Linked DNA regions of Homo sapiens. The protein of the gene in region 3 purifies or fractionates together with the protein of the main gene of each other region. This does not show direct contact. Each region holds a gene or a part of one and is shown on either strand. Other genes may lie near its edges. The genes, in order: ZZEF1, RCCD1, YJU2B and UBR1.

What was found.
Region 1: the proteins of YJU2B (region 3) and ZZEF1 purify together in Homo sapiens (affinity purification with mass spectrometry; 3 studies listed by BioGRID and IntAct, with this or other methods). This does not show direct contact.
Region 2: the proteins of YJU2B (region 3) and RCCD1 purify together in Homo sapiens (affinity purification with mass spectrometry; 2 studies listed by BioGRID and IntAct, with this or other methods). This does not show direct contact.
Region 4: the proteins of YJU2B (region 3) and UBR1 purify together in Homo sapiens (affinity purification with mass spectrometry; 3 studies listed by BioGRID and IntAct, with this or other methods). This does not show direct contact.

The regions. Positions count from the first base shown.
Region 1 is NC_000017.11:4,069,186-4,077,030, forward strand, and holds part of ZZEF1 (zinc finger ZZ-type and EF-hand domain-containing protein 1), read right to left. Parts: intron 7,805-7,845; coding exon 7,683-7,804; intron 7,575-7,682; coding exon 7,452-7,574; intron 6,245-7,451; coding exon 6,078-6,244; intron 5,994-6,077; coding exon 5,912-5,993; intron 5,167-5,911; coding exon 4,965-5,166; intron 3,572-4,964; coding exon 3,423-3,571; intron 1,740-3,422; coding exon 1,499-1,739; intron 1-1,498. UniProt on the Homo sapiens protein: Histone H3 reader which may act as a transcriptional coactivator for KLF6 and KLF9 transcription factors.
Region 2 is NC_000015.10:90,957,262-90,963,848, reverse strand, and holds the end of RCCD1 (RCC1 domain-containing protein 1), read right to left. Parts: coding exon 6,346-6,587; intron 6,246-6,345; coding exon 6,124-6,245; intron 3,950-6,123; coding exon 3,851-3,949; intron 3,522-3,850; coding exon 3,351-3,521; intron 2,825-3,350; coding exon 2,795-2,824; intron 2,232-2,794; coding exon 2,080-2,231; 3' UTR 724-2,079; downstream 1-723. UniProt on the Homo sapiens protein: Plays a role in transcriptional repression of satellite repeats, possibly by regulating H3K36 methylation levels in centromeric regions together with KDM8.
Region 3 is NC_000019.10:13,750,659-13,758,503, reverse strand, and holds part of YJU2B (probable splicing factor YJU2B), read right to left. Parts: intron 6,897-7,845; 5' UTR 6,696-6,896; coding exon 6,693-6,695; intron 4,216-6,692; coding exon 4,162-4,215; intron 2,308-4,161; coding exon 2,225-2,307; intron 1,087-2,224; coding exon 1,031-1,086; intron 719-1,030; coding exon 658-718; intron 1-657. UniProt on the Homo sapiens protein: May be involved in mRNA splicing.
Region 4 is NC_000015.10:43,095,382-43,103,226, forward strand, and holds part of UBR1 (E3 ubiquitin-protein ligase UBR1), read right to left. Parts: intron 1-7,845. UniProt on the Homo sapiens protein: E3 ubiquitin-protein ligase which is a component of the N-end rule pathway. Recognizes and binds proteins bearing specific N-terminal residues that are destabilizing according to the N-end rule, leading to their ubiquitination and subsequent degradation.

The DNA.
Region 1 (7,845 bases), on a different chromosome or scaffold from region 3:
TTTTAACCCACAGGCTTTTATCCCTCTACTGAAAATTCCTTCAAGTAAAAAGATTATCCAGCTTTCTTACTATAATTTGATTACAAAAATACATATTGACATTCCCCCCGCCAAAACCATACAGGTTACATCACCCCCTCGATTCCTCAGCAGAGAAAAACTCTTCCATATGACATTTGTTTCCATAAATCACTCATGTCTCAACACAGTTTTGTTTATTTGAGCAGCTTTTTAAAGGAGATATTAAGATTTGGGGATGTAATCAAGATGTTTTAACAATCAGAAAATAAATTCTGCAATGTGAGATCCAAAGAAATGAGCAATAAAGGTGGTAGGAATAAAAATATCAATAATAACAAAACGAGGCTGGGCGCGGTACTCACGTCTGTAATCCCAGCACTTTGGGAGGCTGAGGCAGGCAGATCACCTGAGGTCAGGAGTTCAAGACCAGCCTGGCCAACAGGGCGAAACCCCGTCTCTACTAAAAATACAAACATTAGCCGGGCGTGTTGATGGGTGCCTGTAATCCCAGCTACTCGGGGGGCTGAGGAAGGAGAATCGCTTGAACCCGGGAGGTGGAGGTTGTGGTGAGTCAAGATCGCGCCACTGCACTCCAGGCTGGGTGACAGAGTGAGACTCCGTCTCAAAAAGTAAAACAAAACAAAACAAAATGAGCAACAGTCAATTACCCACTCTAGTGGAAGGAAGCTCTGTTTTTGCTTCTCCCGCCTGCGCTGCGTGGAGAAGACATACCCTGCCAGGCGGTTAGGAAGCCCATGCCTTATCTCTAGGTAGGGCTTGAAACACTTTTCCCCTGAATTAGTATGAAGGTAGAGAGAGACTCTCCCTCCGTGTGGGTCCTGCTAGGCGGCAGGGAAGCAGGGTAAATACAGAGATGGCATCCCTAAGAGACATGAGGAAAAGAGATGGTGAGGAGAAGGTTATCAGCAAAGGAAGCCTAGTGGGGTGATGCTACGAAGGCGCTGCAAGCTAGCTAAAGGTAATAGTTAATACCTACAGCTTCCTCCTTGGTTATTACTACATTCAAGAACTTAAACATCTGTGGTTTTAATTGGAATTTCTTAGAATGTTAGAGCGAATCACCCTTAAACCAATTTTACAGATAAAGAAACTGAGGTGCAGAAAGGTCGTCTGATTAACCTGAAGCTGCACAACTTTTGAGTTTTTGCACTGGGACCAGGACCCAAGTTAAGGTTTCTTTCCATTAAATTTCTCAGCAGTTTTCCATGAGAATTCTGGATAAAGATAATTTACCTGCTAATTTTGCAACTCAAGGTTAGGTGCCACACATTATAATCTGCTAACCATAAAGTGGCCATGAATCTTTTAATAGGCAAAGTAGAACCAACAAGATGATGTTTACAGTTATAGAAATGTGTTTATATTTTAAAATATTTTAAATGTTCACTTAAGATAGGCTTTCTTAAAACTTAGCAATTAGCCTTCAGATCAAAAATATTCCCTGTAATAAAGTTACCATATTTTTGCAGCTTCTCATATAAATCTGGAGTGCGATACACCAGAGCAGCAAAGGTGGCGTTCACAGCTTGATCAATAGTGGAACCAGCAACTATATCTGTCTTTGGGGCCTGTTTTCTACATGCCTGTATGAATCCTTTGAAAAGTTCTGAATATGGCCCACAGAAGTTCTGAGCAGGCTCTGACTGGGCAAAATCAAGAAGAAAATGGCGGCAGGGGTCGTCAGGAATGTTCTTAACCTGGAAACAAAAAATAAACCCATCACATTTAACACATTCATTCAAAAAATAAAATTTATTGAGCAAACTATTAGGCCAAAGCAGAAGTATAAAACACAGTGAACACTCTCCGGAAGTTTAAATCTATTTTAGGAAGACCAGACAGAGATATGAGTTAAAAAAAGATAAACATAAATAAAACATTAAAAGCATTAGAACTAGCATTCCCGTAAAGCAAAAGATTATCAAGTGCCAAATGCCTAGAAGGGATACCCAGTGCTGAGAATTCAAAGGAGAGAGATCCTGGTAGGTTAAAGTAATTAAGAAAAGCCTCCTGGAGGATATGGGCTTTGGCCTGGACCCTGAAGGATTGGCAGATTTGGCTCTGAGGAACATAACCATTAGCAGAGGTTACGAGTCAGTGGGGAGACTGACCTGGCCTGAAGTCTCAGCTGGGGAGTGATGGGAACTAGAGTCAGATAGGTAAGGTGAAAGGAGACTGCAGAGAGCCTTGACTGTCACATTGAGGAGTTAGACTTCACCCTGTGGGCAATGGGGAGCCATTAATGGTGCTTGGCAGTGGAATGACAAGATAATGCAGTGATTATAAAAAAAACTTGGTAGGTACGAATGTCATAAGGCAGGTGCAAATGAGGGCCCGGATAAAGATGCAGACAGAGGAAAGGACAGAGATGAACATCATGAGGAAGAATCCACAGGACCTGCAAGCTGACTGGACAGGAATGGGGAGACAGGTGAGGACAGGGGATGCTAGGGAGCAGTGGCTTCAGGCCTGGGGAACACTGACCACCACAGAAGTGACCGGTCTTTGGTTTTACACTTCTGAGTTAAGGGGAGTCAGGACATTTAAATGGAAATGCCTCACAGGAAGATGGAAACAGGTACTTGGAGCGGGGAGAAAACCAGACCTGGAGACTGATATTAGGAATTAGGGCCACAATGTTTGACAGGAGAAGAAAGTGGAGAGGATGAAGTCTTGGTGGGCTGTGGGGAAGGGAAGAAAGCCTGAATAAAGCCTACCCTTTAGGGAAGGAGGAATATGAAAAGTCAATGAAGGAGGCAAGTGGGCAGTCAGATGTAAGAGAAGACAGCGGACTAGCATGGATCCAAAGAAGAGAGGGTCTGAAGGAGCCAAATTTAACAGAGGCAAGGAGAACAGAAGCTGAGGAAGAGCCACTGGATTTGGCAATTAACTACTGAATAACGTGGGGCAGGGCAGGGAGGGGAAGGAAGAAAAGTAGAATACAGAAATAGAGGGAAGGAGAGGTGAAAAATAAAGACAGGGCAAACTTTTTAGTTTTTAAAATCTTATACACCTAAATCATGTGCTGTAATTCTAAGGAGAACAAAAGGTATAGCACAAATCATTGCTCTAAAGCTTGACTCAGTAGGCACTAGAAGTACACTCAATTGTTTGCCTGATAACTCCATCAACAGAGATTTACTGAGCACCTCCTACATTTCACCCAAGTCACGCATTCAGTATTTCTGAACACCTATTGCGCACTGGCCCCTGTGGGACACGGTGGCGTTAACAAGTTAACAAGGTATAGTTTCTGGCCTCAAGGAGCTAACTGCTTAATACGGGTAGTAAGATAGAAACACAAGTGTTTATAACTTAAAGTAATAAATACTTGCAGGCAGTTTCCAGTCTAAATAGAAAGAAAACGGAAGAGTAAATACCTCCTTACTATTCCGGTGTGGGTGAGTGGGCCAGCTTGCTTCTAATTCCAACTCTGGACAAACCTGATGCCTGAAGACAGGTTTCCACAGTGGGGAGCTTAGGACTAATGCCATTTTTGCCTGAGGTACTACCATGTTACTTCCTAACTCTAGAAAGAGAAGAAGACATATGACAGTTCTATTTTTGCCTTAATATATTGAGAATCTTTGAAATGAGAAAGAAAAGGTTAAAAAAAACCATGGATACTATTAAAACTTAGAGAAAGTTTACCCACATACCAGAATGTAATTGTGATACTTTGTAAACACATACCACAGATTAAGCTAAACCACCAAGTCCTGAAATACTGCTGCTCTGTGGAACAACTTCAGTTACAAGGTACCTTGGAAATGACTAATCTGTTTATAGTAAGCTGAAAATAGGATATGAACCATTTCTGGCATATAACACGAGGCCATTCAGGAACATTTAATTATGGAAAAACATTCACAATTTGTAAACTTAATTCTGTAGCAAATAATAAATATCCAGCATAGATGTGTTTAGAATAGGCAAAGAGAAAAGAATAGGTGGAAATAAAAATGCTAATAGCTATTTCTTTCTTTCTTGGAGAAATATTAAAAAAATCAGTTACTTCTGAGTGTTAGGATTAAGGATGATTCTATTTTCCTTTGTTTTTTTCCACTATGTAATTTTTCTATATTTTACTTCTAAAACTGGAAAAACTCAAGAAATGATCAAGAAATAAAATACAGTAGAAAGTTTTATTCTGTAATTCTTGTTCCCTGGAAGAATTAAATAAACAATTATACTGAACACATCTTTTTCCTTTTGTTTTAAGAGACAAGAGTCTCTCTCTGTTACCCAGACTGGAGTGCAGCAGTATGATCACAGCTCACTGCATGCAGCCTCTAACTCCTGGGCTCAAGTGATCCTCCTGCCTCAGCCTCCCAAGTAGCTGAGACAAAAGGCATATGCCACCACACCTGGCTAATTTTTACATTTTTTTTGGTAAAGATAGGGATCTCACTATGCTGCCCAGGCTGGTTTCAAACTCCTGGGATCAAGAAATCCTCCCACCTTGGCCTCCTAAAGTGCTGGGATTACCAGCATGAGCCACCTTGCTCAGCCCTGAATGAATCACTTTAAAACAAAATCCATAGTCACATATCTACATATATTTACATAAATATTCACATATTTAAAGGATATGCAATCAACTTATTCTATACTCCTGCCTTTTGGTTGGACTATACCTACACCTACTTGCAAAAAAATGACAATGTTGCCAAAAAAAAAAGCTGTTATCCTCCATAGACAGAGAACCCATGGCAGCCTTCCTGCTATGTTCCAAAGTCTAAGGCAAAAAGCTTCGTGACAATGGTATTGAGTGGACACTTTATTCTTTCGGTTTAAAGGAAACTGAAAAGGCGTATTATTAACCCCCTGCCATTACGTGGAAACGACCTACAAGAGGGCAAGCGCGCATCTTGCACTTCACCGTGGTTGTAAGAAGGGAAAGCACAGGGATGTGCACTTACGGCGCACAGACTTGAGCGCCATGCACTGGGAAGCCAGGCGTCCCATCAGCCGGGAGACGAGGAGCTGTAAATCCAGCCCCCAAGACACGGCAACATCGGGCAGCCCACAGGCAGTGACAGTGAATTTGTAGCCCCATTCGTTGTGACTGCTGTCAGAGTGAAAGAGGAACTGCAACCGAGGACCGGCCTTGAAGGTCACTTTCTAGAGACAAACAGAAATCATGTGGTCAGACAGATTAGAGGAGGAGTGCTTCAGAAATCAGCATGCTCTTCATGACGAGAAACATCTCAGTTTAAAATTGATCTCTATTTCCACATGTCCAAAATGACTAACGGAGAAATGTACAAAGGGGTGACGGAAACAGACCATTCACAGCCACACCCCATGAAGAAGGAGAGTTGGCAGAATACTGCTGCTCAGCTTTCTACACCTGGGGTGACCATCTGTCCACTACCGACTCAGCCAGTGGTCACATTTCCATGCCTCTGCTCCTGCCAAGACCACTGACCATGGAGAGAAGGTCAACAGTCTGAGGCAGTACTAAACCTCCAGCCCAAGAGCTCAAGCAGCTCTAACTGTGAGGCAGACTCTTGGCTTCCATCACATGGTCTGGGCCATCCTCCTAGACCCACCAGCACTTCTTGCTAAGGATGAAGGCTCTTCATTTACTCTAGACAACGCTGTCTGCTGCAACTACTCAACTCTGCCACTGCAGTGCCAAAGCAGCTATAAATGATAAACAGGCATGGCTGTGTTCCAAAAAAATTTGTTTACAAAACAGGTGACAGACTATAGCTGGTCAAACTCTGATATAAATCCTTCCTTTCACAAACGTGTAACATAAATGCCTCCCTTCAAAGACCTTACCTCTACTGCCCCCTGAAGGCTGACAAAAGGAAAAGCATTGGTGCAGAAGTAGGTACCTCTTTCTGGGACTATCACTCACCTTGGGCCATTTATCAGTGCCAACTTTTGTGTCATAGCGTGTTTTCCGACCTCTAGCGTCGGTAAATTCCAGATAATCATACCTGTGAAGGCATAACCTCTATTAGCTTCCTTCTCTCATTGCTGACCTATTAGCGCTTGGGGGTGAAAGAATATAGAAGTCTTACCTTTTTTCAGTTTCACACCTGTCATCGAATTCCACTTCAAAATAGGTTGCCCCTGGGCTAACAAAGACGGATACCTCATGGCAATTATTTTCATAGTTGTGGGCAGATTCCTTCGTCCACGTATGTAACACCACAGGCTGTTCCTGTTGCCAGGTCTCAACATCCAGCTATGATAACAAATGAGCCAGGGGAAAGAAAGGTTCTATCACTAGACACCTAGCCACATGCAGCAGACTGTTTCTCTATCAGTGCTCCAGGCAGATGGCCTTGACAGCCCTGCACAAACCAGCAGGCAGGCTCGAAGACAAACCTGACATTCCCATCTTCACACAGATCAACACACGTCCACCACGCAGCCGAGGAGATGTGCTTTTATTACACACAAAAACTCCATGACCAGCTTGTACCTTTTCGCTATGACAGAACTACTTACAAATCATTACCAGTGTGAATTCCCAGTGGAAAAAGTACTGAATGAGGAGTTTAAAGACCTCACATTCCTACCTGGGACACTGGCAAATCTGGATCTACTCTCCCTTCCTCTCCTACCCTTTTCTTTTGAGCGGGGGGTTGGGGGGGGGCCTTTGGTTTTTTACCTGTTAAATATAAATGCCTTTTCTACTGCCACAGAGTTGTGCTCTGTGGCACACAAAAGACACACAAGAAGAAGCTCACACAAGACAGTGATTAAACGTTATGTATGTATAATTAAGTAAGGGAGAAATTTCTTCTAAAGACAAAATGTAATTTGCCTTTCAACATACATTTTCTCTTCTAGACTTCAATTTTGTCACTCACTTACATGGTTTTTATATAACTTCATCAACTATAAAATGATGAGATTCATCTCTACAGCTTTTTCTGCGTCTCCTTTCTTTTTTTTTTTTGAGACGGAGTCTCGCTCTGTGGCCCAGGCGGGAGTGCAGTGGCGCAATCTCGGCTCACTGCAAGCTCCGCCTCCCGGGTTCACGCCATTCTCCTGCCTCAGCCTCCCGAGTAGCTGGGACTACAGGCGCCCACCATCACGCCCGGCTAATTTTTTTTGTATTTTTAGTAGAGACGGGGTTTCACCGTGTTAGCCAGGATGGTCTCGATCTCCTGACCTCGTGATCCGCCCGCCTCGGCCTCCCAAAGTGCTGGGATTACAAGCGTGAGCCACTGCGCCCGGCCTCTGCGTCTCCTTTCTAATGCTGACCAGGCCACATCGACTTGGACTGACATTCACCCTTGTTGGCAAGCCCACTGATAAAATCAAGGGAGCCTTCTAGAGGCTGCTCAGCTGTGCCTATCTGCAGTCCGTGGTCCACTTCACTAAGTGTGTCCCATCACTCCTGAGAGAGAACACGGGGCGGCTCAAGTGCTGACTCGAGTTACCTTCCTCAGTCCTCCTTCGGGGCCACTACAGAGCTTCTTCAGGAGTTCTGTGAGGACGCTGAACTCTCTCAAGAGCACGCAGTGTGGGATGTCTAAAGTGCAGAAGTCCAGCAGGAAGATAACCTAATGGAAGATGGATGAAGCACTCAGCGTCCACCTTAGGCTGGGCCTGGGGATGCAGACCCCCAACCCCCTTCCGGTTCTTTACAAATAGCTGCTAGTTTTTCTTACCAGTTGACGAGCTGCCATTGAAAACACTGAGTTACATAATCTTTCTACTATGGTTTTTCCACTGTACTGTGAGAAAAGGGATTCCAAAATCGCTCTCATGCTTGCCAGAAACTGGCCCACATCTACCGAAACAAAGAAAATAATTAATATATTATATAGTAGA
Region 2 (6,587 bases), on a different chromosome or scaffold from region 3:
AGCCCAGAAGGTGGAGGCTGTACTCCAGCCTGGACAACAGAGAGACCCTGTCCAAAAAAAAAAAAAAAAACCCACAATGAAATACCACTTCACACCCATTAGGATGGCTGTTAACCAGAAATAGAAAACAAGTGTGGACGCGGATGTGGAGAAATTAGGATTTGTGTGCACTTCCAGTGGGGATGTAAAATGATGCAGCCTCTGTGGGAAACAGGGCAGTTCCTCAAAAAAATTTAGAATTACCACACAATCCAGCAATTCCACTCTGGGTATATATCCAAAAGAACTGAAAGCAGAGACTCAAGAGAGTTGTACACCCATGTTCCCAGCAACATTATTGACTGTAGTGAACAACTCAGATATCCACCAATGCACGGATGAATAAAACGCAGTGTATACATACAACAGAATCTTAGCCTTTAAAAGGCAGGAAGTCTAGATACATAAGCTACATCATGGATGAACTTGGAGGACATGCTGCTAAGTGAGATAAGCCAGTCATAAAAAGACAAATACTATGGGATTTCACTTACATGAGGCACTTACAGTATCATAGGAACAGAAGGTTAGGACTGTGGTTGCCTGGGGCTGGGGAAGGGGAGACTGACGAGTTAAGTGTTTAATGCACAGAGTTTCAGCATAGAATGATGAAAAAGTTCTGGAAATGCATAGGGGTGACGGTTGCACAACAGTGAATGCATATAATGTCACTGAACTATGTACTTAAAATGGTTAAAAACAATTTTTGTTTTTTATTGAACATAAATTTTATGTTCAGTATATTTTACCACAATAAAAAAGACCCCATGGGTGGGAAACATTTGCTAAACCACAGACACACACATGCACAAATAGAATTTAACTATAAAGAAAACTACTGATAAGCTTATTTTATCAAAATAAGTTGATACTTGTAAAGCACTTTGAGCCTTACCTGGCATGGAGTAAGCATCACCTAAGTATTAAAATTGGTAATACCAAGAGAGACTGAAACAAACTACATTGTAGCAGAAGATACTCTGAATACTAACTCTCAAAAGACTTGTATCTGAAATATCCAAAAGAAAAATCACTAAGGAAAATACAGAACATTTTAAAAGGCCAGAAAACTTGAACAGGCACTTGACAACAGAAAAACTCCAAGTGGCCAATAAACATATGAACTCTTCGCCTCAAGCAATCTCCCTGCTTAGCCTCCCAAAGTGCTGGGACTACAGGTGTGAGCCACCATGCCCAGCCATCCAAAACAAATGAAAAGCTACTCAACCTCATCAGTATCCAGGGAAATGCCAATTAAAACCAGTGTGCATCTACCTGACATTTTAGCCACAGTAGACCCCACCCTGCTGGGGGCAACAGTTATCTAGTAAAATTAAAGGTATCTCCTGACTTAGCAATTCAACTCAATGTTCTGCAAAGGAACTTGTGCACATGTGCAGAAGACTGCACAAAGAATTATGTGGAATGACCAAAATCAGAAACAATAAAAATGACCATCAACAAGGCTGTATCACTTGAGGTATTATTCATACAACAGAACACCATATAGCATTAAAAATGAACTCCAGGACCCAACAAGGATGGATTATACAATGCTGAGTGACAAAAACGACACAAAAGCACATACACAGGATTCCATTTATCTAACACTCAAAAGCAAACACAACTATGTCGTATAAGGCTGCATACAAGAATGGTAAAATTCAAACGAAAGCAGGGAAATGACTGACAGAAGACGATGACCTGGAATGTGCCCCAATCTCAGCTGCACATCAAATGTACCTGGGATGAGGTGGGTGGAGCTTTGAATCTACCACTATCCAGGCCACACACCTAGAAGCTCTGGTTTCATTGTTTCATTGATTTCATTGTTTTGATTGATGCTGACCTTAGGCAGCAGAGTTTTCAATGCTCTCCAGGTGTTTCTAAAGTGCAGACAAGTTTAGGACCGTGCTTGAGGGTGAAGGGCAGGACTGTGATGGGGAGGGGCAAATATGGGGCCCTTGGGGTGCAGGCAATGGTTTTCCTTGACCTGAATGGGGGTCTCACAGGTGTTGCATATACATATACGTACACATGTCAGCTCTTCCCTTTCTCCACAGCATACACGTAGGTGTTCCACGGCCCACAGGTGACAGCCTTTACTTGGAGTTGCTTATCTACAAAGTATTCCACACGGCGAGGCCGATCCAAGCTGGTGGTGTCCTCGTGGCCCAGCTGTCCATATTTACCTAAAGTGAAATCAGCCCCTTTGCCATCGTCTCCACTGGGTCTTGCTGCTGCTTTCCCTCCAGGAAGGGGCCCAGACTATCAAATGAAGTGCTGGGATTATGCCCCACTGCTCTGTGAATCCAAGAGACCCAGAGCCAGGCAACCTTGGGGATCCCCAAGAGGCTAGTGGCGACCAGCCACTCCAGGCAAGACGCTCCTCCAGACTTCCCTGCTATCCAAGCTAAGATGTTCAGAGCACACACTTCCATCGAATCTTTTTCTCCACCCAGTGTCACATCCACAAAAAGCTGCTTTGTAAGTGCTGGTTGGATACTCCCTTAAGACAGTCTTTCAGAGAGGTAGGCGGGTGGTACCGATATCCTCTCCATGTCTCCCCTGTCTGGCCTCGGACTGAGCGCGCCTATGTCTGTTCCAACCCCAGGGAGGGAGCAGTCCTGTTCCTCCCAGTGACCTGGCCGAGGCCCCTGCTTCCTCCAGTCTTGTTGGCTTTGTCACCTGCCCTGTACTCCCAGGTCTTTCTTCTCCTTGGTTTCAGGGTCACAAAAACAATCCTTTTACTTACCCCAGCCCCAGGTGTAGAGCTCCCCTGTTCCTGAAAGCAAAAGGACAATCGATAGTTGTCACTACGGTTCTTTGGCAAGGCATCTGTCCAGCCCAGCTTGGCACAGCCCACAGCTAGCATATTACAATCCTCATGAGATCTGCCTGGCATGGAACAACATATTCTCTTAACAACTGGCTGATCACACGTGGCATGGCAGAGGATCCCGAGGGAAAAAGTGGCGGATCTTCCTGTGTGCCATGCTACCGAGCGCCGCAGTCTTCCATGCCAGACTGGACAGTCCCTGCTGTCAGAGGCGGCGGCGGGCAGGGAATGTGTCTGTGGCCGTGCAGGGAGGACAGAAAGCATCAGCCTCCCACCAGAAGGAAGAAACTTCTGGGCCTGACAGGCTGGGGAACTACTGTGAAACAACAAGGGGGTTGGGGCTTATCCACTGAGCAAGGTAGCTGCTCTGTATGAGCCACAGAAGCCTTAAGACAGAAGTTTTTCCGTCGACCACACCCCCTTCCGTAGGCACCAGCTCGAGTGGAGCAGAGTGCCTCCCAGCCCCACTCACGTGTCACCACAGCTGTGTGCCGGGATCCACAGCTGGCCTTGACTGCATCTGAGCCCATGGGGAGATCCAGTAATGCCGGGAAGGGCTGGACAGCTATGAAGGGGGCAGGGGCTCCATCCTCAGCCCCACCCGTTCTCTTCACCTGAGAACCATCTTCATTCAGTTCTGTGGCTTCAGAATGATAATAATGATGTGAACACCAACTGAGCCCTGAGCTAAATCTTATTCATGCAGTCACTTATTGCCACAACAGCTCTGAGGTACACGACTGCCTAGCTCCAAAGCTGGTGCTCCCAACCCCTACATTCTGCAGGCAGGGCTGGCACTGCTGCACAAGTGTGTTGTGCCAAGACCGGCATCAGCCTTGCCAATGCTCCCTCCCATAAGGGGCTCACATGCTCCATCTGAGCAGTGTAGCTCTGAGGCCAGCATACAGCCAGGAGTTAGGAATGACAGCCACATCCTGGGGAGACGGCTGTGGGAGCCGAGATGACCCTCACCTTCCCTTGCGACAGTCTCTCCATCCTCTGCCAGGTTCCTGGTGGGCAGGGCCAGCTGCCCTGATTCATTCCAGCCCCAGATATAAATATCCCCAGTCTCTGAAAGAGATCAAGGGGACACATGAAACAGACTGTGAAGCCCCTGCATCCATCCAAACTCTCCTCCCCATCGCATCCGCTCCTGGGGACAACTAAAGCCTGCCCTGCCCAAGGTAGCACTCCAGGCCAAGGCGCTTCCCCTCGGGCCCCAGGGGCTTGTCTTAGGTTCACATCCCCTCAATGCCTTCAGATCACCCTTTAAGTCCCTTACTGGACCTTCTACTTCCATTCTTATGCTGCCAAATAGCCCCTCATTTCAGAAATGTATCCCTAGAAGTACCGCAGTGGTCTCCCTTTCAAAACCACTGGGCCAGGGCCAGGTGCATTGGTTCATGCCTGTAACCCAGCACTTTGGGAGGCTGAGATGGGTAGATCACTTGAGCTCAAAAGTTCGAGACTAGCCTCAGCAATATGGCAAAATCCCTGTCTCTAAATAAGTAAATAAAACAACCACTGGGCCGGCCTGTGCCCCTTTTTCAACTGCACCCACAGCCGGTCCTGATGAAAGCCACGTGCAGCTCTCCCCTTCCTGGCCTCCCACAACACTGGAGCTTTTTGGTTGGAACAGCTGCCTAATTCTAAAAATTTCTAACAATAGCTGCTTTATGAAGTGCTTAATCCATGCTGATGTTTCACATGCTTTTCAAATATAATCACTTAATTCTCACAATAGCCCTACAGGTGGTTTTATGACAATATCACCATTTACGCAGGATCCCTATTTTATTCACAACTGAGGCACAGAGGGGGTTAAGTACCAGGCCCGAGGTCCCAGGGCCCGAGCAATGATCTGAAACTAGGAAGTCTGGTGGGATGTGTCCGTGCTTCAGCCTCTACACTAAACTTAAGGCCTCAAACTCCTTCTGGACCTTGAGTGCAGGGCGTCCCACTGGGCTGTTTCCAGCCCTCTGGTCTCTCCAGCCCAAGGTTGGGGTTTTTTTTTTTTGTTTTTTTTTTTTTTTTAGACAGACAGAGTCTCACTCTGTCACTCAGACTGGAGTGCAGTGGTGTGATCTTGGCTCACTGCAACCTCCACTCACGCGTGGCTCAAGTGATCCTCCAGCCTCAGCCTCCCGAGTAGCTGGGACCACAGGCACGAGCCGCCACGCCCAGCTCATTTTTATATTTTTTGTACAAAGACGAGGTTTTGCCACGTTGGCGAGGCTCAGCCCAGGGTTTCCTGAGCTTGGCAACCAGCCCAGGCCCATTCCATGAGAATATGGTGTGGAGGAAGGCACTGGTAGCTTTTCTTTTTTTTTTTTTTTTTTTTTTGAGACTGAGTCTCGCTCTGTCGCCCAGGCTGGAGTGCAGTGGCACGATCTCGGCTCACTGCAACCTCTGCTTCTCAGGTTCAAACGATTCTCCTGCCTCAGCCTCCCGAGTAGCCAGGACTACAGGCGCACACCACTGCACCCAGCTAATTTTTGTATTTTTTTTTAGAGACGGGGTTTCACCATGTTGGTCAGGCTGATCTCGAACTCCTGACCTCGTGATCCACTCACCTCGGCCTCCCAAAGTGCTGGGATTACAGGCATGAGCCACTACGCCCGGCCCCCTGGCATTGGTAATTTTTTAAGCTTCCAGGTGATCTACGTAGCAGCCAGAATGAGAGCCCCAGACACAGACAAAGATCATCTGTTCCCAGCCTCACCCTCTCTGCATGGGCTCTAACAGCCTAGGAAGGAGCTACACCTGGATCACCAAGTGAAACTCCTCACTCTGGCCAGCTGTGGCACCACCACAGGGACACACTCATCACCATCCTGGTGCCTGGTGGGCACCCCAGTGTCCACCCTGTGCCACACATCATGGCCCCCTAGGCAACTGCAGCGTTTCTGCGTTTTCCTTGGCTCAGCTGCCCCCTCACACTCCATACTCCCTCGGCAGCACTGTTAAGAGACAGTCCTGGCTGGGAGCAGGTGGGGAGAGGAGGGGAGGGGCAGTGAGACCAGTAACAGAGAAGCTAGGAACAAATGCCAGAGTCCAGGCGTGAGTGGGCCATGGTGCAGGCAGAGGAGGCCGAGGGTGAGAGGCATTTAGGAGTCATAACTGACTGGGCGATGGATGGATGAATTTGGAAGGAGGCCTGGGTAGGCCCCCACCCAAACTGGAAAACGAGGAGGAAGGTTTGCACAAGATCATGAGCTCGTCTGGAGAAGCACTAAGTCACTCACCACTCACACACACAGAATGCCAGCCCCCCGCGGCCACCTCAGCCATGACTAGGCCCTGCAACGCCTCCAACAGCCGTGGCTCCAGCTCTGCCTCCAGGGTCCCATGGCCCAGCTGTCCATGCCTGAGCAAGGGAGACCGTCGTCAGCTACAGTCGCATTAAGGGGTCCCGCTCCGCTTGCTTCTCCAATCAGCAGCCCTCACCTGCCCCCGCCTCCGCTCACCTGCCCCCGCCCCAGGAGAACACCTGGCCAGCAGCGTCCAGCAGCAACGCGTGCTCGGCGCCCAGCTCCAGCTGGCGTGCCCGCAGCTCCGGAGCCAGAGGCCGGTAGAAGGGCGCCCGCGGGCTCACGTAGGCACGGGCGCAGGGCAGCAGGGGTAGCCTCCCAGCCTGGGCCTCACCGGCCGGATCGTCTTCCCCTTCGGCCTCGGGCACCACATTCTGGGCCCACAATGGCTCCCCACG
Region 3 (7,845 bases):
CATCCATTTGTTAATTCACTTATCATTTGTTCATTCTGTTCATTCATTTGTTCATTCATTTGTCCACTAGTTCATTTATTCAACAAACCCGCCCAAGACAGGCTGCTCTGTGGCAGGCTCAGTGCCAGCTGCTGGGGAAATTGCTGAGTAGTGGAAAAGCCAACTTGCTCATGGAAAGGCTGACGTCCCAGCAGGGCCCACCTTGATAGCAAGGGCACAAGCAACCAGTGTCAAGTCTCACTTTAGAAAAGGTGTCTCTGAGGGGTGCTGTTTGAGCAGAAACCCCGGGTGAGGGAGGAGCCTTGGAGCTACCTGGGGAAGAGCATTCCAGGTGGAAGCACAGAGGTGGGTGTGTCCCTGGGGTGTGTGAGGGACAACGAGGAGGCCAGGGAGGGGGACAGCAGGAGGAGGTTAGGGTGAAGAAAGGACAGGCAGAGTGTGTGGTGCCTTGTGAGCCAGGGGGAGGACTTGGGCTTTTACTGAGGAAGGTGGGAGCCATGGAGGGTTGCGGGGGTGGGGTGTGCCCTGATTCACCAACCAGGGCGATTTCCAGGAGTCCTGCAGGGAATGGGTTCCCCCCGCAACTCAGGCTCTTTGTAGCCCCCTCGCCCTGTGGCCACCCCACCTGTTCCCAAGATGCCACCAAGCCGCCCTTACCTGTAGATCGGGGTTGTGTAGTAATTGCCCACCTTCTTCTTTTCTGCATTGTAACGAACACCTGGAAGGGGGTCAGGCGGGGGTGGTAATTTCATTGCCATCTGAATTTTGCAGATGGGTAAAATGAGGTACAAAGAGGCTCACTGTCACTTGCTGAGGGTTCCCCAACTAGGAGGAGTTAGAGACGGGATTGGAAGCCAGAGCCTGGCTTCCTAATCCCTCTGCAAAGGGGCTTCCATGGCCAGCCAGTCACTCGGGTGCCCGTCTCCTCCCTCATTCCTGATCAGGACCCTCCCACCCCCACCCCGGCGGCATCCAGCAGTTAGGGGGTCTGATGTTTGCAGGACTGAATGGAGGGTGGGCAGAGGCTCACCCATGCCGATGTGGTTCTTGCAGCCATCGCACCAGATGTTATATGGCATTTCGAATCTGCAAAGACAGACAGCATCTTACTTGCACTTGTCCACTTGGACACTCCCTGGGTCTCCACACCTGCGACTCTGGCCGCGGTTGTGATTTGAGGGGTGGGGTATTAGACTGCCCTGTTAACGGGAGTTGCTGCACTCACATTACACAGGAAATGGATATATGGAAGAAAAAGAATCACAACCATTGTAACTGAGCAGGAACTTCCTGCCTGCTAGAAAGCAGACTGACCAGGTCCAGGGACAGCCGCCTTTGGGTGCTGCTGCGACTTTTTTTTTTTGAGACAGAGTCTTGCTCTGTTCCCCATGCTAGAGTGCAGTGGTGCGATCCTGGCTCACTGCAACCTCTGCCTCCTGGGTTCAAGCAATTCTTATGCCTCAGCCTCCCAAGTAGCTGGGATTATAGGTGTGCGCCACCAATTCCGGCGAATTTTTTTTTTTTTTTTGAGATGGAGTCTCGCTCTGTTGCCAGGCTGCAGTACAGTGGCATGGTCTTGGCTCACTGCAACCTCCAGCTCCCTAGTTCAAGTGATTCTCCTGCCTCAGCCTCCCGAGGAGCTGGGATTACAGGTGTGAGCCACCGCACCCAGCCTAATTTTTTCTATTTTCAGTAGAGACAGGGTTTCACTGTGTTGGCCAGGCTGCTCTCGAACTCTTGGTCTCAAGTGATCCACCTGCCTCACCCTCCCAAAGTGCTGGGTTTACAGGCGTGACCCACTGTGCCCAACTACGATCACTGTCTTTTTTGAGAGTCCTATGTGATCAAGTCCAGGCTGGCCTGCTACAGGTTGAGATACAACACGGAGCAGAGCCCAGCTGTACAGGTCAAGTCCCTGCTAAACCAGCCAGTCCCCAGCCAGCCAACTCTGAAACACATGGGAGCCCAGCCCAGATCAGGCCAGCCTAGCCCAGCCCAGCCAAGCTCTTCCAAGCCCAGCAGAGATATTTTGCTGAGCTGCAGACATGTGAGCAATAATAAATGCTTATTGTTTTGTCACACGGCAATAACTGACTGATACGGTGACTTTCTGCTTTATGGAATGAAGACCCTGCAGCACTGGGCCAATGAGGGCACTGAACTCTCCTTGAGACTGAAGGAATGGGGCAGGACGGTGGGGTCCTCAGGTGATGCTGGGCCTTACCGGATGATGAGGATGCCCTGTGACAGCTTCCGAGCCCGCTCCCGAAGCGGGTGGCTGTTGTGGTATCGGTTGAGAGAGCCATGCTGTGTGGAGAGGATGAGGAGCGGATTAGTGCTGCTGAGCTGGAGGAGCTCACAATTTTCTGCCACCCCCACTGCTTTGGGACAAGTGTCTCACAGGTGGGAGAGGCCTTGATTCTTATGTCCTGCAGGACGGGTGTTCATAGCAATAGGGGGCATCCAGGTCTTACTGGAACATGTAGGCTTGGAACCAGGAACGTGAGTTTGAATAGTCCCTCTCTTATTTATTTATTTATTTTTTGAGATGGAGTTTTGCTCTTGTTGCCCAGGCTGGAGTGCAATGGCATGACCTTGGCTCACTGCAACCTCTGCCTCCCGGGTTCAAGTGATTCTCCTGCCTCAGGCTCCTAAGTAGCTGGGATTACAGGCGCCTGCCACCACGCCCGGCTATTTTTTTTGTATTTGTAGTAAAGACGGGGTTTCACCATGTCACCCAGGCTGGTCTCCAACTCCTGACCTCAGGTGATCCACTTGCCTCGGCCTCCCAAAGTGCTGGGATTCCGGGTGTGAGCTACTGCGCCCAGCCCTGTTCCCATTTATGAGCTGAAAGAGCCAGGGGACCCTGGGCGAGTGACCTCACGTTTTGCCTTCCCGAGCCTCTGTTTCCCTTGTCTGTCAACTACGTATAATGGTCATTATTACTTCCAGGTTTTATGGGGAAGATGAGGTGAGGTGACAAGACTGGCAAACATTCGCTGGGGACTTCATGTGCATCACCTTATTTTTTTTTTTTTTTTTTTGAGACAGAGTCTCGCTCTGTCACTAGGCTGGAGTGCAGTGGCGTGATCTCGGCTCACTGCAACCTCCGCCTTCCGGGTTCAAGCGATTCTCCTGTCTCAGTCTCCCAAGTAGCTGGGACTACAGGTGTGGGCCACTACGCCCAGCTAATTTTTGTATTTTTAGTAGAGATCAAGTTTCACCATGTTGGCCAGGATGGTCTTAAACTCTCGACCTGGTGATCCACCTGCCTTGGCCTCCCAAAGTGCTGGGATTAGAGGCGTGAGCCATGGCGCCGGCTTTTTTTTTTTTTTTTTTTGAGGCAGGGTCTGGCTCTGTAGCCCAGGCTGGGGTGCAGTGGTATGATTATGACTCACTGCAGTCTCCACCTCCTGGGCTCAAGCAATCCTCCCACCTCAGCCTCCTGAGTAGCTAGGATTTATCCCTCAATGATTCTGTGAGGTCAGCTCATTTTATTTCCCCCTTCTGACGTATGGAGAAACTTTGGCATAGAGAGGCTAAATCCTATACTCAGGACGAGGCAGCTGGGACACTTGGGCCCTTACTGAGCACCTACTGTGTGGGGACACAGCCACAATAAGATAGATGAACATCTCTGCCTTCAGGGAGAGAATGTTCTAGCGGGGGAGATGGACAAGACGCAAATAAATGAATAAGTGAGGGAGTTATAAGGGCTATGAGATTATATAAAGTGCTCAGCAATGCAACAGAGAACGAGACAGTGGTCAGGGAGGACCTCTGTGAGAAAAGCACTTAAGGAAGTGAGAGTATGGTGAAATGGAGGAAGAGATTCCAGGCAGAGGGGACAACCAGGACGCCACAGGTGCTGGAGCTGGGGAAGCCATGGGATCTGACCCTTCATCTGTGCGCTCTGCCTTATCCTGGGCCCCTGCTGTAAACACACTATACTCTAGTATAGTGTGGACATGGAGTTACAGGTCCCTGAGGAGAGCCACAGTTATCACCCAAAAGTGAAGACAGCCTCGAGACTCAGGTGACATGCAGAAGACAAAAAGACCTTGGGGGCCACCCATCCTTCCGCAGCAGTGGCTCTAACCCCAAGAGGGGATGACGTGGGTCTTTTTGCTACTGTGGACCTGGAGCGGAGAGCCTGCTTACCTTCTCAGGGTTGAAGTCTGGAGGATAGTACTTGTTGACCCCTTTCCTTTCACCCTGCAAAGCAGAACAGAGACATGACTCAGAGAGAGGCTGATATGGTTTGGCTGTGTCCCTACCCAAATCTCATTCAAAAAAATTTTTTCTGATTTTTTATTTTACTATTAATTTTTAGAGATGGAGTCTTGCTCTGTCACCCATGCTGGAGTGCAGTGGTGCGATCTTGACTCACTGTAACCTCCGTTTCCCGAGTTCAGGCGATTCTCCTGCCTCAGCCTCCTGAGTAGCTAGGATTACAGGCATGCACCACCACGCCCAGCTAATTTTTTGTATTTTTAGTAGAGATGGGGTTTCACCATGTTGGCCAGGCTGGTCTTGAACTCCTGACATCAAGTGATGCACCCACCTCAGCCTCCCAAAGTGCTGGGATTACAGGCGAAATCTCATCTTGAATTGTAGTTCCCATAATCCCCACGTGTCATGGGAGGGACCTGGTGGGAGGTAACTGAATCGAATCATGGGGGCGAATCATGCTGTTCTCATGACAGCGAATGAGTTCTCGAGAGACCTCATGGTTTTACAAGGAGCTTTTCCTCTTGCTCATTCTTGCTGCTGCCACGTGAAGAAGGATGTGTTTGCTTCCCCTTCTGCCATGATTGTTAAGTTTCCTGAGGCCTCCCCAGCCATGCTGAACTGTGAGTCAATTAAACCTCTTTCCTTTATAAATTACCCAGGCTTGAGTATGTCTTTTTTTTTTTTTTTTTTTTTTTTGAGACAGAGTTTCACTCTTGTTGCCCAGGCTGGAGTGCAATGGTGCGATCTCATCTCACTGCAACCTCCGCCTCCCGGATTCAAGCAATTCTCCTGCCTCAGCCTCCCGAGTAGCTGGGATTACAGGCATGTGCCACTACGCCCAGCTAATTTTTTTGTATTTTTAGTACAGACAAAGTTTCACCATATTGGCCAGGCTGGTCTTGAACTCCTGACCTTGTGACCCACCTACCTCGACCTCCCAAAGTGCTGGGATTACAGGCGTGAGCCACCGCGCCCAGCCCTTGGGTATGTCTTTATGAGCAGCGTGAGACTGGACTAATACACAGGCTCCCTCCAGGAAACCTACTTGTGCAGCCTCAGGGGGCAGGACCTGGATAAGGGGGACTTGGGGACATTTTAGAGGACAGTGCTGGGCTCAGTGTCTGATTGGGGAAGGGCTACTTGGGCAAAAAACCCATTGTCATTGCTTTGGAAAATTCCATGAGGTTCAGATGCTCCTATGGTGGCTTTCACACTCTTTTGGAGACTGTGATTGACGGTAAGAAGTATTTAACATTGCCACTGGGCAGATACACATGTAGTACCGTTGAACACAGGTCTCAAGAAAGAACACTGAGCCTGGCTGAAGAGTCGCTCTTGTTTTCTTCTTTTTTTTTTTTGAGACAGAGTCTTGCTCTGTCACGCAGGCTTGGGTGCAGTGGTGCAATCTTGGCTCACTGCAACCTCTGCCTCCTGAGTTCAAGCAATCCTCGTGCCTTAGCCTCCTGAGTAGCAGGGACTACAGGAATGTGCTACCACATCCAACTAATTTTTGTATTTTTTTTTTTGAGATGGAGTTTCGCTTTCGTTGCCCAGGCTGGAGTGTGGTGGCATGTTCTCAGCCCACTGCAACCTCCACCTCCCGGGTTCAAGCGATTCTCCTGCCTCACCCTCCAGAGTGGCTGGGACTACAGGCTCCCGCCAACACGCCTGGCTAATTTTTGTATTTTTAGTAGAGACGGGGTTTCACCACGTTGGCCAGGGTAGTCTCAAACTCCTGACCTCAGGTGATCCACCCAGCTCAACCTCGCAAAGTGCTGGGATTACAGGCGTGAGCCACCGCGCCCAGCCTAATTTTTGTATTTTTAGTAGAGACAGGGTTTCGCCATGTTGGCCAGGCTGGTCTCAAACTCCTAATCTTAAATGATTTGCCTGCCTTGGCCTCCCAAACTGCTGGTATTACAGGCGTGAGCCACTGTGCCTGGCCTTGCAATGGTTAATTTTATGTTATATGAATTTCACCTTGTTAAAAAAAAATGAAAGAAAGAAAGAGAAAGGAAGGGGTAGGGGAGGGGGAGGGGAAAGGGGGAAGGGGAAATTTAGGTTGAGTGTAGTGGATCACTTGAGGTCAGGAGTTTCAGACCAGCCTGACCAACATGGCAAAACCCCGTCTCTACTAAAAATACAAAAATTAGTGGGACGTGCTTGCTTGAACCCAGAAGGCGGAGGTTGCAGTGAGCCGAGAGCGTGCCACTGCACTCCAGCCTAGGCAACAAAGTGAGACTGTCTCAAAAACAAAAGAAAATGAAACAAAAAAACATTTAAAAAGTGCCCATGGGTGATGTTAGCGCAAAGCCACATTTCAGACCCACTGCACCAAAAGATGATGACCCGGAGATTGAAATCATCATCTTAGAGCTCTGGGAGGGGAGGAGGGGCTGCTTCCAGGGTCCTACAAAGACTGGGAGAGAAACCCAGGGCACACGAGGCTGTCTACTCACCATCTTGGGAGCTGCCTACTGGTCCTCAGCCTCGGGGCGGACGATCAGAAACTGGCCTTGTGAACACACTGCACTGTCCTGACCTCTTGTGGAGCCTGGCAGAGGGTCCACAGGCTTCCCTGCGAAGATGTCGTGGGCCGTGTGGTGGTGCCAGCTCAGACAAGACTCCCGCCAGGCATAGGAGGCATCCAAAAAGCGGCGTGTCTGTTTAGAAAGAGAGAGTCCCGTCCACTCTACAGCCAATATACGCATCACATCTGACACTTTCATCCCTCTGTGGCCCCCACCGGGTCCAGCACCCATCATCACTCACGTGGGCCAGCACGGTCTTCTCTCTCCCGACTCTGCCCTTGACACTTGCTCACCCCACAGCTGCCCAGGGGATCTTTTTGTTTTTTGAGATGGAGTCTCGCTCTGTCACCAGGCTGGAGTGCAGTGGCGCGATCTCTGCTCACTGCAACCTCCACCTCCTGGGTTCAAGTGATTCTCCTGCCTCAGTCTCCCGAGTAGCTGGGACTACAAGCGTGCGCCACCACACCCAGCTAATTTTGTATTTTTAATAGAGACAGGGTTTCACCATGTTGCCCAGGATGGTCTTGATCTCTTTACCTCATGATCCACCCGCCCCAACCTCCCAAAGTGCTGGCATTACAGGTGTGAGCCACCATGCCCAGCTGGGATCTTTTAATATGAACAAACGTGTCACTCTCCTGCTTAAACCCCTCCCATGATTCATATGGTTTTTAGAATCAAGTCAAACCCCTTCCCACGGCCTGTGGGGCCCCTGCCTGCCTCTCCAAGCCTAACTCTTACCCCTCTATCTCTCGTTCACTCTGTTCCAGCCACACTGGCTTCCTGGCTGTCTTCAAAGGCCAAGTGCAGCTGGCCTGCACCTGCTGTTCCTCAGGTTTGCAAGCTCTTTGTTACAGGCTTTTTTTTTTTTTTTTTTTTTTTGAGACGGAGTCTCACTCTATCACCCAGGCTGGAGTGGGGTGGCATGATCTTGGCTCACTATCTCTGCCTCCTGGGTTTAAGTGATGTCATGCCTCAGTCTCCTGAGTAGCTGGGATTACAGGTACCCGCCACCAAGCCTGGCTAATTTTTTTGTATTTTTAGTAGAGACAGGGTTTCACTGTGTTGACCAGGCCAGTCT
Region 4 (7,845 bases), on a different chromosome or scaffold from region 3:
GTAACAGTAGACTCCATTCTGGACAGGGTCTGTGTCATTCCTGGGCAGCAAGTGGGCAGTTAGGAAAGTGCACTAACTCTACTGGAGTCTTATCAGTAACGTTTACTTACCACAGCATATTTCCATAAGCACTCAGATTAGAATTAGAGTGTGACAACATTAAAAAAAAAAAAAAAAGGCTGCATCAAATGCTTTAAAAAAACTAAGCTCATCAACTATGGTTTATTCAAGAGGAGGCATGTTAACTGAAAATATCTTGAAAGAACATGTAGGCGGTCATAGTAAATCACCTGGCATTAGAGGTCTTAATATTTTGTGTTAGGTCATCTGAGGCAAGGGGTTAAAAGCTTAAGGAAAATTATTTCACAGAGCACAGCATATGCTTAATACCTTTACAGAAATGGATAAAGTGGCAGCAAGGGAACTCCGAGGTAACCCTCAAAGTCAGCATCCAAAGAAAGGATGGGCAAGATACAGGCACACCTCAGAGACATTTCGGGTTCAGTTTAAGACTACCACAATAGAGTGAACATAAAGTGAGTCACACAAATTTTTTTGGTTTCCCAATGCATATGAAAGTTATGTTTACACTACACTATACTAAGAGTGCAATAGTATGAAGTCTTTAAAAATGTACTTAATGTTAAAATACTGCTAAAAAATGCTAATGATCATCTGAGTCTTTAGAAAGTTGTCATCTTTTTGCTGATAGGGGGATCTTCCCTCAATATTAATGGCTGACTGATTAGGTTGGTGATTGCTAAACGTGGGGGTGGCTATGGCAATTTCTCTCTTTTTTTTTTTTTTTCTGAGACAGAGTCTCACTCTATCCCTCAGACTGGAGTGCAGTGGCACGATCTGGGCTCACTGCAATCTCCGCCTGCCGGATTGAAGCAATTCTCCTGCCTCAGTCTCCCGAGTAGCTGGGATTACAGGCGCCTGGCTCATTTTTGTATTTTTGGTAGAGATGGGGTTTCACCATGTTGGTCAGGCTGGTCTCAAACTCCTGACCTTAGGCAATCCGCCCACCTCGGCCTCCCAAAGTGCTGGGATTACAGCCGTGAGCCAACGCGCCCGGCCAGGCAATTTCTTAAAATAAGACAACCATGAAGTCTGCCACATTGATTGACCTTTTCACAAAAGATTTCTCTGTAGCATGTGATAGCATGTTACCAATGGCAGAACTTCTTTCAAAACTGGAGTCAATCCTTGCCAACTCTGCGGCTGCTTTATCAACTATGTTTATGGAATATTCTAAATCATTTGTTCTTATTTAAACAATGTTCACAGCATCTTCACCAAAAGTAGATTCCATCTCAAGAAACCACTTTCTCTGCTCATCCAGAAGAAACAATTCCTCATCCATTAAGTTTTATCATGTGTTTACAGCAATTCAGTCATAACTTCAACCTCCACTTCTAATTCTAGTTCTCTTATTTCTACCACATCTGCAGTTACTTCCTCTACTAAAGTCTTGAACCCCTCAAAGTCATCCAGGAGGGTTGGAATCAACTTCTTCCAAACTCCTGTTCATGTTGATATTTTGACCTCCTCCCACAAACTATGAATGTTCCTAATGGCATCTAGAATGCTGAATCCTTTCCAAAAGTTTTTCAATTGACTTTGCCCACATCTATCAGAGGAATCGTAATTTATGAAAGCTATAGTTTTATGAAATGTGTTTCTTAAATAGTAAGAGTTGAGAGTTGCAATTACTCCTTGATCCATGGGCTACAGAATGGATATTGTGTTAGCAGGCATGAAAATAACATTTATCTCCTTGTATATCTCCATCAGAGCTTTTGGGTGACCAAATGTATTGTCAATAAGCAGTATATTTTGAAAAGAATCTTTTTTTTTTCTCAGCAGTTCTCTACAGTGGACTTAAAATATTCAGTAAATCATGTTATAACAGATGTACTGTCATCCAGGCTTTCTAGTTCCATTTATTCAACATACGCAGAGTAGCATAATTCTTAAGTATTCTTGGATTTTCTGAATGGTAAATGGAAATTGGCTTCAACTTAAAATTACCAGCTGCATTAGCCGCTAGCAAGAGAGTCAGCCTGTCCTTTGAAGCCAGGCATTGACTTCTCTCTAGCTATGAAAGCTCTAGATGGCATCTTCTTCCAACAGAAGGCTGTTTCGTTTACATGGAAAATCTGTTTAGTGTAGCCACCTTCATCAATTATCTTAGCTAGATCTTCTGCATAACTTGCTGCATCTTCTCCATCAATCAGCACTTACTGCTTCACGCTGCACTTTTATGTTGTGGAGATGGTTTCTTTTCTTAAACATCACGAACCAACCTCTGCCAGCTTCCAACTTTTCTTCTGCAGCTTCCTCACTTCTCTCAGCCTTCGGAGAACTGAAGAGAGTGAGGGCCTTGCTCTTTGATTAGGTTTTGCCTTAAGGGAATATTGTGGCTGGTTCAATCTTCTATCCAGAGCACTAAAACTTTTTCCACATCATCAGTAAGGCTGTTTCACTTTCTTATTATTTGTCTGTTCACTAGAGTAGCACTTTTAATTTCCTTCAAGAACTTTTCCTCTGCATTCACAACTTGGCTAACTGCTTGGCACAAGAGGCATAACTCTTGGCCTATGTCAGCTTTCAACAGCCTTCCTCACTAAGCTTCATCATTTCTAGCTTTTGATTTAAAGTGAGAAATGTTGAACTTTCCTTTTCACTAGAATACTTAGAGGCCATTGTAGGGTTAACTGGCTTAATTTTAGTATTGTCCCATCTTAGGGTATAGGGATGCCCAAGGAGACGGAGAGAGATGGATAAGTAGCTGGTCAGTGGGGCAGTCAGAACAAACACAGCTTTTTTTATTATGTTTGCTGTCTTTTATGGATGTGGTTCATGGCACCCCAAAACAATTACAATAGTAACATCAAAGGTCACTGATCACAGATCATCATAACAGATATAATAATGAAAAAGTTTGAAGTATTGTGAGAATTACCAAAATGTGACACAATGACACGAAGTGAGCACACAATGTTGAAAAAATGGCACTGAAAGGCTTCCTTGAGACAGGGTTGCCATAGACTTTCAATTTGTAAAGAACTGATTATCTACAAAGCACAATAATAAAGCTCAATAAAATAAGGTATGCCTGTATTTCACTGGTTCATCTGTATCACTGATTTATAAAAGTATCTATCCAGACACACTCTTTGTGCAGTACTGAGGACAAAAACCTTTTCATTTGCAGGATGTTTGGTATTATAAGAAGTCAGTTTCCAGCACTAGCACATCTACACTAAGTTACTGTTCCTTCCCTAGACTCTTAGTTAGTGGGGCTGAATCAGTCATTTTGACTTAGAGTTTTAGAACTCAATTTCACATCTAATTCTATAGAATCTGGCATTAAAAAATCAAAATTTCCCTAACTCCCCAAAATAGAAATTATGAGATGGTGAAAAAACAAAAGCCATTAGGTCTTGCTAAGATCTGGTGACAAAGTACTTCAGTTAGACTCAAAAGACCTACATTTTCATCAGTTTTCCCACTCAGAGTGTGTCCTTACTACACAAAACTGTGCTCTGGCCTAAAACAATATAGATTCAAATTTCTAAGGAAAATCATCTCCAATTAAAATCACATATAACTCCTCACTTCTATATTGAAGTCAAGAGATTATGTTGTATTTTAAAGATCCCCTATAGCCCAGGCACGGTGGCTCACATCTGTAATCCCAGCACTTTGGGAGGCTGAGGCGGGTGGATCACCTGAGGTCAGGAGTTTGAGACCAGCCCGGCCAACACGGCAAAATCCCGTCTCTACTAAAAATACAAAAATTAGGTGGGCATGGTGGTGTGCACCTGTAATCCCAGCTACTCGGGAGGCTGAGGCAAGAGAATTGCTTGAACCCAGGAGGCAGAGGTTTCAGAGAGCCAAGATTGCACCACTGCACTCCAGCCTGGGTGACGTCTCCAAAAAAACAAAAAAAAAAAGTTCCCCTACAGATATGAGATTATGGGTACATTTTTCTTTGATTTCCATAATGATTATTGCGTAACCATAACAATATTAAACTTTTAAAAAATCCTCCCATTTCAGCAGGAGACAACTTTGGGAAATAACAGAAATATTCTATAACCTGATTTGGTGGTAGTCACACAAGTATATACATTTGTTAAAATTTATCCAAGAAACGCCTTAAATGGGTACATTTTATTGTATGTAAATTATATCTCAATAATGTTAATATCTCTTAACATTCTCAGCTTCTATTACCCCCACTTCCTCTCTACCTCAGTGTCTTCTCATTCATTCATTCATTCATACATTCAATAAAAACTTTGAAGCAATGTGCTAGAAACTAGATACAGCTGTGAACAAGCAACAGTTCAGGCCTTCAAGAACTTCACTGTCTAGAAGGAAAGACACATAGTAAACAGGTAACGTAGAGTACAGTCTGAGACACGCTACATAAAACCATAAAACAGGAGTATAGAAAGGGTGCTATAGGAACACACAAGAGGTGCCTCTTTTTTTTTTTTTTAGACGGAGTCTCACTCTGTCGCCCAGACTGGAGTGCAGTGGTGTGATCTCAGCTCACTGCAAGCTCCGCCTCCCAGGTTCACGCCATTCTCCTGCCTCAGCCTCCTGAGTAGCTGGGACTACAGGCGCCCGCCATCATGCCCGGCTAATTTTTTGTATTTTTAGTTGAGAAGGGGTTTCACCATGTTAGCCAGGACGGTCTCGATCTCCTGACCTCATAATAAACCCACCTCGGCCTCCCAAAGTGCTGGGATTACAGGCATGAGCCACTGCACCAGGCCAAGAGGTGCCTTTAACCTGGCTCTACCATCACAAAAACTTGATGTGCCCCCATGTACTCAAATTCTAAAATGCCCCTTTCTGACCACAAAGTTCAGTCCTCCCACTTATGTCAACCTCATGCCCTTTAACACCTCAATCCCACCAATTCCCTCCAGATTTCCTGTTTTGGCTTTTATTACCTCCCTGTTCAGCCTGGACTCGAAGGTTAGCCACTACCCTAACATGCCGGCTCATTCCCTTTTTTCTATCTACAACCTCCATCCACCAATCACTACTAATCTTACTACAATAAATCATTAATGTTGATCCTCAGTTATTCATTCATTTAAAAATATTTAAGTGTCTTCTGTATCAATCACATACCAAGATACATCAATGTGGCCAGGCATGGTGGCTCATACCTGTAATCCCAGCAGTTTGGGAGGCTGAGGCAGATGGATCATGAGGTCAAGAGATCGAGACCATCCTGGCCAACATGGTGAAACCCCGTCTCTACTAAAAACACAAAAATTAGCTGGGCATGGTGGCATGCCCCTGTAGTCCCAGCTACTCAGGAGGCTGAGGCAGGAGAATCGCTTGAATCCGGGAGGCGGAGGTTGCAGTGAGCCGAGATCGCACCACGCACTCCAGCCTGGCGACAGAGCGAGACTCCGTCTCAAAAAAAAAGATGCATCAATGAACAAGTCACACATGATCCTTCCCTTCATGGAACTTACCTCTCCCTCTGGAGGAAGAAACAGACATTTTGCTAAGTAAATAAAGACAATACAGTAATTACAGATTGTAATAATTGAAATGGGAGAAATAAACAGGTTGCTTTGACAGAGAATAAGAGGAACCCATCTTTTAGACAGAGTGTGTATTAAGAAAAAGCAGAGGAAGAACACTCTAGGAAAAGCAAACAGCAAGCAACAGCACAGACCCTAAAGCAAAATACAGCTTGGGCTTGTACTAACAGGCCAGGATGAGTGAGGAGAATGTAACAGGAAATGAGGTGGAGATGCAGGGGCTGGACCAGGCAAAGTCTTGAAGGCTTGTAATGAGTTTATAAGTATAAGAGAAAGCCACTGAGGATTTAGGTAGGAGACTGACATGATCTCATTTAATCTTTAAAAGATTACTCTGGTTGTTCTGTGCAGAATGGACAGGAAGAGGGCAACAGTGGAAGCAAACAGACCAGTTAGGAAGTCACTGCAGTAGCCAAGACAACAGAGAGTGACTTGGACTACATGGGTGGAGACAGAATTATTTGTCTTCAAGAGCTATGATGGAGGTGCTGTCTACTGAGACAGGGACAACAAAACTCTTGATCTGCCTTTCTCCTTTCCTCTCCTAAAATCTTGTCTTTCCTCTCAATATATGACACAACCAAGGCCAGGTGCGATGGCTCACATCTGTAATCCCAGCAACTGGGGAGGCCGAGGTGGGTGGATCACTTGAGGTCGGGAGTTCGAGACCAGGCTGGCCAATATGGTGAAACCCCACCTCTACTAAAAATACAAAAAAACTGGCTGGGCACGGTGGCTCATGCCTATAATCCCAGCAATTTGGGAGGCTGAGGTGGGCGGCTTGCCTGAGGTCAGGAGTTCAAGACCAACCTGGCCAACATGGTGAAACCCCTCTCTTTACTAAAAATACAAAAATTAACCAGGCGTGGTGGCAGGCACCTGTAATCCCAGCTACTTGGAAGGTTGAGGCAGGAGAATCGCTTGAACCCGGGAGGTAGAGGTTTCAGTGAGCCGAGATCTCGCCACGCACTCCAGCCTTGGCGACAGAGAGAGACCTTGGCTCACAAAAAAAAAAAAAAAAAAAAAAAAAGCCAGGCATGGTGGTGCATGCCTGTAATTCCAGCTACTCGGGAGGCTGAGGCAAGAGAATCACTTGAACTTGGGACAAAGAGGTTGCAATGAGCCGAGATCATACCGCTGGAAACAACACAACCGCTGCCATGAATGCTTAAACCAAAAACTGAGGATGCAGATATCATCTATTCCTTACCTTTTGCCTCATGCCTAATCTATCAGCAAGTCTTTTTGCTTCTTCCATCCTTCTAAAATCTTTCTCACATTCATCCTCTTCACTCTATCTCCAAGGATAACCTTTCCAGTGCAAGCTACCATCAACTATGGCTTGGGTTACAGCAGCAACTTCTTAATTGCTCCCACTGTTTGAAACACCAGACATCCAAGTGAAGATGTCAAGTAGGCAGTTGGATTTATGATTCTGGAGTTCAGAAGTGAGATGACACAGAGATATAAATTTGGGAACTGAATACATACAAATGGTATTTAAAGTCACAGAACTAGATGAAATCCCCTAGGTAGAGGTTATAAACAGGCAATAGAAAAGAGCTGAGTATCATGCCAAGAGGTATCTTCTGAAATTGACTTAAGGAAGAAAATCTAGTCGAGGAAGACAGAAGGCAGAAGTTCTGGCAGACTACCTCACAAGTCTCTTGATTCCCAATTTTTCTCAGTCCTCATTATCATGGACCCAATAAACCACCCTCTCAAAATAATACCCCATGCCATCACACTACTCTCACCTCCTACGTGCTTGCCTATTGTTTCCACGTTCTTACCTCATTCTTCCATTTTCCACCCGTTTCAATCATTCCTGTTCTCTCTTTCTCATCATCTCTGTCTCACTCTCTTTTCCTCTGTGTGTGTGTATATATATGCACACATTTTCCTCCTCAAAGATCTTATCCGGGCTGGGCGTAGTGGCTCACGCCTGTAATCCCACCACTTTGGGAGGCCAAGGCAGATGGATCACTTGAGGTCAGGAGTTCGAGACCAGCCTGGCCATATGGCAAAACCCTGTCTCTACTAAAAATACAAAAATCAGCCAGGTGTGGTGGAACACACCTGTAATTCCAGCTACTTGGGAGGCTGAGGCACAAGAATTGCTTGAACCTGGGAGGTGGAAGTTATAGTGAGCCAAGATGGCACCACTATACCACAGCCTGGGTGATGGAGTAGGACTCTGTCTTAAATAAATTAAATTAAATTAAACCCTGTCTCTACAAAATATGCAAAAAATTAACTCGGC